2 linked regions of the Homo sapiens genome follow. The protein of the gene in region 1 interacts with the protein of each later gene in a biochemical or structural test. Each region holds a gene or a part of one and is shown on either strand. Other genes may lie near its edges.

What was found.
Region 2: the proteins of AMACR (region 1) and PEX5 interact in a test that uses a peptide from one of them, tested with the Homo sapiens proteins (one large-scale study listed by BioGRID).

The regions. Positions count from the first base shown.
Region 1 is NC_000005.10:33,997,966-34,001,791, reverse strand, and holds part of AMACR (alpha-methylacyl-CoA racemase), read left to right. Parts: intron 1-2,964; coding exon 2,965-3,151; intron 3,152-3,826. UniProt on the Homo sapiens protein: Catalyzes the interconversion of (R)- and (S)-stereoisomers of alpha-methyl-branched-chain fatty acyl-CoA esters.
Region 2 is NC_000012.12:7,192,666-7,196,491, forward strand, and holds part of PEX5 (peroxisomal biogenesis factor 5), read left to right. Parts: intron 1-3,826.

The sequences.
Region 1 (3,826 bases):
GCCGAAAGTTTTCACAGTGTTTAGCAGCAGAATTCCAGACCTGGGCCTGCCTGTGAAGAGCTGGAGGCTGCCTTATTGTAGTGCTGTTTCCTTGGAAACTGTAGTTAAGATAACTCTGGAATATGGAGTGCGTTTTGCTGTATTTACACTCAATCTGAGCCCACATGATGAGCACAGCGTTGTTAAATTAACTGTAGCATAAAGCTGCCCCCTTACGTATTTTAAGTTCCACCTAAAGGTTTCTCTTACATAATGAGCTGTGACCTAACTGGATGTGTAAACAGACTGTAACCTGCTTTTGTAACAAGCAGCAAGTCTCAGCCAATCACAGCAGCCGTACTTCAACTAATCACAGGCGGCCAGCTGTTCAAACCATGTTCAAACAAGGCAAAGGCCCACTTGTAACCAATCCGGCTGTTTCTGTACCTCACTTCTGTTTTCTGTACATCATTTTCCGTCCATAAGTCCTCTTTGGCCCCAGGGCTACACTAGTCGCTCTGAACCTAGTCTGGTTCCACAGACTGCCCAATTCATGAGTCATTCGTTGCTCAGTTAAACTCTTAAATTAATTCGTCTAAAGTTTTTCTTTTAACAGTATCAAAGGTTGGTGGCAAATTGAGGCTGCGGTTTCCCTGTGTCAGGGGGCTCTTCACTCGCATGCATGGTATATGAGTGATGGGGCAAGAGAAGCCGTGTGCCAGGGTAGCCACTGCCAGGCCTTATGATGAGACGAGGAGGGTTCCTGCTGTATTTCTTGTCCTGTACCTCCTCTGATGCTAAGGATTAGACCAGAGCTTGTTTTTGTCCTGAGTGGACCCAACTGGATCTGTAACTCTGTTAACACGTCTATTTTTCAGCAGTCTCATCAGGGCGTTCAACATATAAAAGAGATTAAAGGGGTATTTTATTAGCATAAAACATTTTATGTTTACATATTCAATATTTATATATTATTTTGTCAGACCAACGAAGCTGTTCTGCTAAACACAAACACTGGAAGTTAGAGTTTATGGGTGATTGTCTCATCGCTTTCAGTATTCAGTTTATTACTGTATTTCATTTTGACTGGATGTTAGGAAAATCCTGAGTTACAGAGATAAGTTAAAAATATCCATAGTTTTTACGCAAAAATTAGCTGGGTGTGGTAGGCACCTGTAATCCCGCTACTCGGGAATCTGAGGCAGGAGAATCGCTTGAACCTTGGAGGTGGAGGTTACGGTGAGCTGAGATTGTGCCACTGCACTCCAACCTGGGCAACAGAGTGACACTCCATTTCAAAAAAAAAAAGACCCTATATTTTTAAAAACTTGCTTAAAATTTCAGATTGCATTTCATTTATGATGAAGCAGAACAAAAATACTTTGTTTCTAGGTCGACTCACTACAGTGTGTAAAAACTTCTCACATTCTTTGGCCTGAACATGAAAGCCAGATAAACAGTATTCAGAACTCTCTGCTAAAACTCTCTCTTGCACTGTATGACAAGCTTGCTTCCAGTTCATCTATTACCGCCCTATTGATTCGGCGTTAGGCTCTGAGAGAAGTAAAGCTTGAGCGGAAAGCAGGCACTTGCTTATTGAAGGTGCTAACTTGTTGGTTTTGTATGAGTCAGCACAAATTAAGAGGAGAGGAGAACCATGCAGAACAAAGGTTTTCCTCAATAGTGTTTCAAATACAAGGTAATATTTATGCAAAATTGGAAGGAAAAGCTTTATTTTAAAGTCTAGCAACAAATGTTAATGAGTTGAGGCTCTGATGAGTCAGAATTTGGTATAGGATACATTTAAATATGTGCTTAAATAACATAAACATAAAATATATTTAAAATAGTGCGCATATACATGCATATGTGTATATATGTGTGTGTGTGTATGTGTATAAATGTGGAACTCTAATATCTCTGTAATCCAGCCTCAAAAAAAGGCACTGCCGTAGGCCACTTGCATGAACTCAGCTATTTGGTGACAATAAATGTCACAGCCATAAATTCAGATGTGCGTGAAATTTCAAGTTAAGAGGGAAAATTGGATATATCCAAAGATACATTTTGTGGTTGTTCCACAGTCAGTAACTGAGAAATTGCTAGCAGTTGGAATGAGGCCTGCTCTATTGGTAGCTTTTGAGACGAGGATGCTTTGAAGGCCTTCCTCCTGGGGTGCTGGAGACATTAGGCTCATAAAAGGCATAAAGGTCAGAACATCATCTTCTTCAAATAGTCCAGTGCCTTCAGCCTTTGAGTTTGAGCCTTGTGATAATTGTACTTTATTGTGTAATTACTTCAGGACTCAGTGGGAAGGTGGCGTGATGAGATGACTTTAGGACTCAGTGGGAAGGTGGCATTCCCAAACCAGTTTGCCTGGACTCAGAAAATGCACATACCTGCCATCCATATTGTTAGTTTATTTTATAACTTTCTAGTGATTATGAAATACATTAAATACTCAAATACAGTTTTCTTGGGATTGGAATCAAGCCAGAATAAGCCAAATTTTACTCTTATGTGATTTACCTTTAAAATGTGGTATGGTTTATACATCTGTGTGTGTTTATAGGTATGGAGATCAGAAGATGGATTTTTAAAAGCTCTTTTAATTTTTAACTTTTTATCTTGGCAGTTTTTAACATTATAAAAAGTAGAGAGAATAGTATAGTGACCTTCCATGTACCCTCACCTAGCTAAATCACTAGCATTTTGCCAATCTTATTTGAAATGGAAAGCAAAGGTCATTTCTTCTAAGTCTTATAGTATTTTTGGAACTGAATAGTGCAGCCAATTGTTATTTTAACACAAACTGCTCTAACTCACTTTCTGGAAATACCAGAGAAGTTGTGTAATTAGGTAGAATCTTCGTATACTCTAAGATAAGAATTTTTACGCAAATTTTTTTTAACTTGAATGGGAGGAATTATTCATGCTTTGACACTTGAGTTATCTGGATTTGTCTTGTATTCTGTTTTCTCAAAGGTGGAAGGAACAGCATATTTAAGTTCTTTTCTGTGGAAAACTCAGAAATTGAGTCTGTGGGAAGCACCTCGAGGACAGAACATGTTGGATGGTGGAGCACCTTTCTATACGACTTACAGGACAGCAGATGGGGAATTCATGGCTGTTGGAGCAATAGAACCCCAGTTCTACGAGCTGCTGATCAAAGGTAAGTGAACTTCACGCGTCTCCCCCAGTTCCCCTTTTGCTGTGGATGTTCTTTGGTTCTATTTTAAAGACTTTTGGCATCTAGGATGTCTTTTATTATATAGCCACTTTCTAATTAACCTAATTATAGCCATCAATATAATGTGGGGCATTTTCCATGGCTTTTAAATTGACCAGCAGTCTTACTAGTCTATAAAATAGCTGAGGGTTTTAAAAATAATAATCCCTTTTGTAGGATGTTCGGTGCTTTTATTACAGTTCACTCCTTGTGTTGGATAATCTTGACCCTGTGTGCCCAGATCTTACTCTTCCCTAGAAATGATCTCACATGGGTTGCTTTCCATTCAATATTCTACCAGCTCCTATTTCTTGGTAGATGTCCCTTATGGCACTTCAATGTCAGAAGTCACCAGAGCATGGAAAGATTTTGCCAAATGAGATTCTGTTAGAATATGTTACTATATCACTATGCCTTTGCAGATGACCTGTCTTGCAGATTCTTGCCTGCTTGGCAAGTTGTCATAAATTAGCAAGAAAATTTGGGATCTCTTCTTCCCTAATTAAATAATTGGATGGGAGTCGTTTTGTTCCTGAGAAATGTTTGAATTTAGAGTTCACTCTATAAATAATGTAGAATCTAAGAAGTTTTAGAATATACTCTGAAGTGATGTGAAAG
Region 2 (3,826 bases), on another chromosome or scaffold:
GGGGAGTCACATCATCATGGTTCCTGAATTTTTCTGAGATGATTAAAGGGACTGAATTGGTTTCTACCCCCACCATTTTAATTTATGTTCTTTCTTCGTTTGCTACAGATTTCAAGGTCTCAAGTCTAATTTTCCTTGAGAGCATCCATTGCTCCTCGCATCCTTTAGGATTGATTCTTCTTACCCGAAGCCTATCTGATCAGGGACAAATGTGTGTGAAGGAGGCCCATGTTTAGGATGGGCTTCTCCGCACACAAGAGAAAAATCCCAAATCTAAAAACTAAAACTCACCTTTAATAAGATCTGTGGGTCTCTTTTATCACGTGTCTCTTTCCCACCCATAAGTTGGAGTTAAGGTAGAACAGTAGGTGCTCTTGGCTTTAAGAGTGCTAATCACTTTATCTTCTTAAGCTCATTAGAACTTCACAGTAACAGTAACACAAGGTGGATATCCCACCCCCATTTTATAGATGAGGAGACTGAGATTTGGAAAAGTTAAATACTTTGTGCAAAATCATTGAATAATAGAGATGATATTCAAACTCATGTCTGTGTGGCTCTTGAGATTCTTTTTTTTTTTTTTTTTTTGAGACAGGGTCTTGCTCTCACCCAGGGTGGAGTGCAGCGGTGCAATCTGTACGCACTGCAACCTCTGCCTCCTGGCTTCAAGGGATTCTCCCGTTTCAGCCTCCTGAGTAGCTGGGACTACAGGCGTGTGCCACCATGCCCGGCTAATTTTGGTATTTTTAGTAGAGACAGGGTTTCACCATGTTGGCCAGGCTGGTCTTGAACTCCTGACCTTAAGTAATCCACCACAGCCTCCCAAAGTGCTGGGATTACAAGCGTGAGCCACCGCACGCGCCCTCACGTTGAGATTCTTTGTGAAATTGCCGCAAGTTAAAATCTGAACCATAGCAAAGACCCTCTCCAAGACAGAAACTCAGTTTTTCACATAAACCTTAGACTTAAGTGCTATCTCTTATCACAGAGAGGCTTCTGTTGTAATGTGGGCATTAGTCATTTTTGATAATTCAGAAAAATCATTGCTACTATGAGCGTTGAGATGGATGAAATTTTTGCTGTAATTACCTGAATTGCATGCAGCCATTGAAATCTTCCTTAACTTGAAATGAAAAAGAACTTTAGAAAAACATGTTTTATCTGTCTCACCAGTTAAATGCTCTTAGTAGAGCTCTTCTAGTATTTTGTAGATTCTTTTGGAATCGTGCCTGTTTCACAGAGGCAGAGACATGCAAACCTTAGAATGGGAGTTGAGCTGTTTGAAGTCTGCCTTCATAAAAATGTCTTATTGCAGCAGTATATTGCTTTGCATGTAGTAGGCCTCTGGTATTGAATGAATGAATTGAGATCTGGGAGAAAAAGCTAAAGGAAAGGAGTTCATTTTGTCGTAACTGACTTTTTTTTATTATCCTTCATTTTTAATTACAGCATTTGTGGTTGATACAATTGTATGGGTTAGCTATGGCTTTATAGATAAGTAGATTTTGAGATGAAAGAAGGTTATACTTTTTAAGTTCTTATTTTAAAATCTCCACTGTTAAGAGTCAAAATCAAGTTTAAAAAGAATGTTGCAGCTCAATTATTTAAATTTAAATTTTTTATTTGGAAGTACTTAGTTTCACTGGAAGTTGAAAAAAAAAATGTATAGGAAGGTTCTGTATACCCTTCACCCAGTCTCCTCCAGTGGTAACATTTTACATAGCAGTTATGCAGAGATCAAAAATCAAGAAGTTGCCCTTGTTTCAATCCTCAGAGTTTATTAGGTTTCACCAGTTTTACATGCCCTTATTTGTGTGTGTGTGTTTTTTGCAATTTTATTAAATGTGTAGATTTGTGTAAGCACCATCATGATCAAGATACAGAACTATTCTCTCACCACATGAAGTTCATTTTTTTAGCTTACCTTATTTTGTAATGGAATCCCCCCGTCTTAAATCTTCTGGGTCAAATAATTCTCCATCTTGTGTTTGCTCAGATCTAGAGATAAAACACATCTTCAGGGTTCTTAAATTTAGACAGCTTCGGTTGACATGGTATGTGAGGTTCATATGATAATCGTGAGAGATAAACCTGCACTTTCATGGGAAAAGCCATGGATAGCAGTAGCAGAAGATAATTGGCAACAGATCTTTTCTGGATGTTGGAGGAGAGGCTTTGGAATAACAGTCTCATTGTGATGTTTTCTGCTTTTGTTATAGGTTTGCCATGAGCAGACTAATGATAATAACTAACATTTGTTACTGTATTCATTGGTTTTCACCGCAGCCCCTACTGTTATCTCTGCTTTAAAGATAAGGACATGGAAACTTAAGAAGGTTGAGTAACTAGTCTGAAGATGCACAGTGAATAAGTGATGGAGTTAGGATTTAAATGTGGGTAGACTGACCCTACAACTTGTATTCTTCTCCACAGTGCTGCTATTTAGCAGACACAGAAACTTTCATGAGTAAGAGTAGCAAGTTCTGAGTTTTTGACTTTTGAGCTTGGGGAAGATGTGCCTAGAAGGAATGAGTAAACAACGAGAAATTATATGAGGTGCACATTTTGAGTGGGGTATTTGGTGTCTAGGTTATTCTCACTCTACTAATCTGTATGACCTCAGGCAGTGCATCCCCTCTGTAGACCTTAGTTGCCTTGATCTCAGATGTATCCACATGGATCTGATTTTCTGTAGGAATTTCTCAAAGATTGTGAAGGCAGTGTGTTACTCTTTTGATTCTTTCGGTTATTTGACTCTTGTTGGAGTAGGTTCCCAATGCCAAGAAATTCTGGGTCTTGTGGCGATTTAATCTGGCCAACTACCAAATTATAGGTATTTGAGGATAGTTTTTCTCAGCTCTGGGATTTTTTTTCTTAAACTGCCTCATATCTATTGTTAAGTCCTCATGTCTGTTGTAAAAATTCAAAGGTGCTTTGTGTTTTTTCTGTTTTTTTTTTTTTGTCCTTGAGAGGACCATTTCATAGGAATTTGAAATGTTTTCTGTGAATTTGAGGAGCACTTATGGCCAGAATATGCTTTTGCAAAATACTCTAGTTGAGAGTTAGAAGTGTTTGGAGAGTTGAGGAGGTAGTAGTTATTTTTCAACAGAATGGAGCTAAGAATTTCAACTAAGAATGGAACTAAGGAACTAGGAGATCTTAAAGTCTCTTTGAGTATTAAGCATCTCCTTTCCGTCTCCACACTTGAGGCAACAGTCTAATTGGGGCAAATGGAAGAGAAATGCTTCCTGTAAGAGCTAGTGAGCAGAATCTGTATTTAATTTTTGAGAGTCCTTGAAATTAACAGATGGATCTATGGTCAAAAAAAATTGCCAACCATATTTCTTATTACATTATACATTATATATTATATATATTATATATACATTTTACATTATATATAATGTATATATAATGTATTTCTTATGTTATAACGTATTTCTTATTACATTATGTTATATATAATGTATTTCTTATTACATATGTTACATATAATGTATTTATTACATTATATATTATATATAATGTAATATATGTTATGTAATAATTATATATGTCATATATAATTTAATTATATGTCATATTTAATTATATATGTCATAATTTATATATGTCATATATAATTTAATTATATGTCATATATAATTTAATTATATATGTCATAATTTATATATGTCATATATAATTTAATTATATATGACATATATAATGTAATAATTATGTGTCATACATATATGTGTCATATATAATGTAATAATTATATGTGCCATATATAATGTAATAATTATGTGTCATATATAATGTAATAATTACATCATATATAATG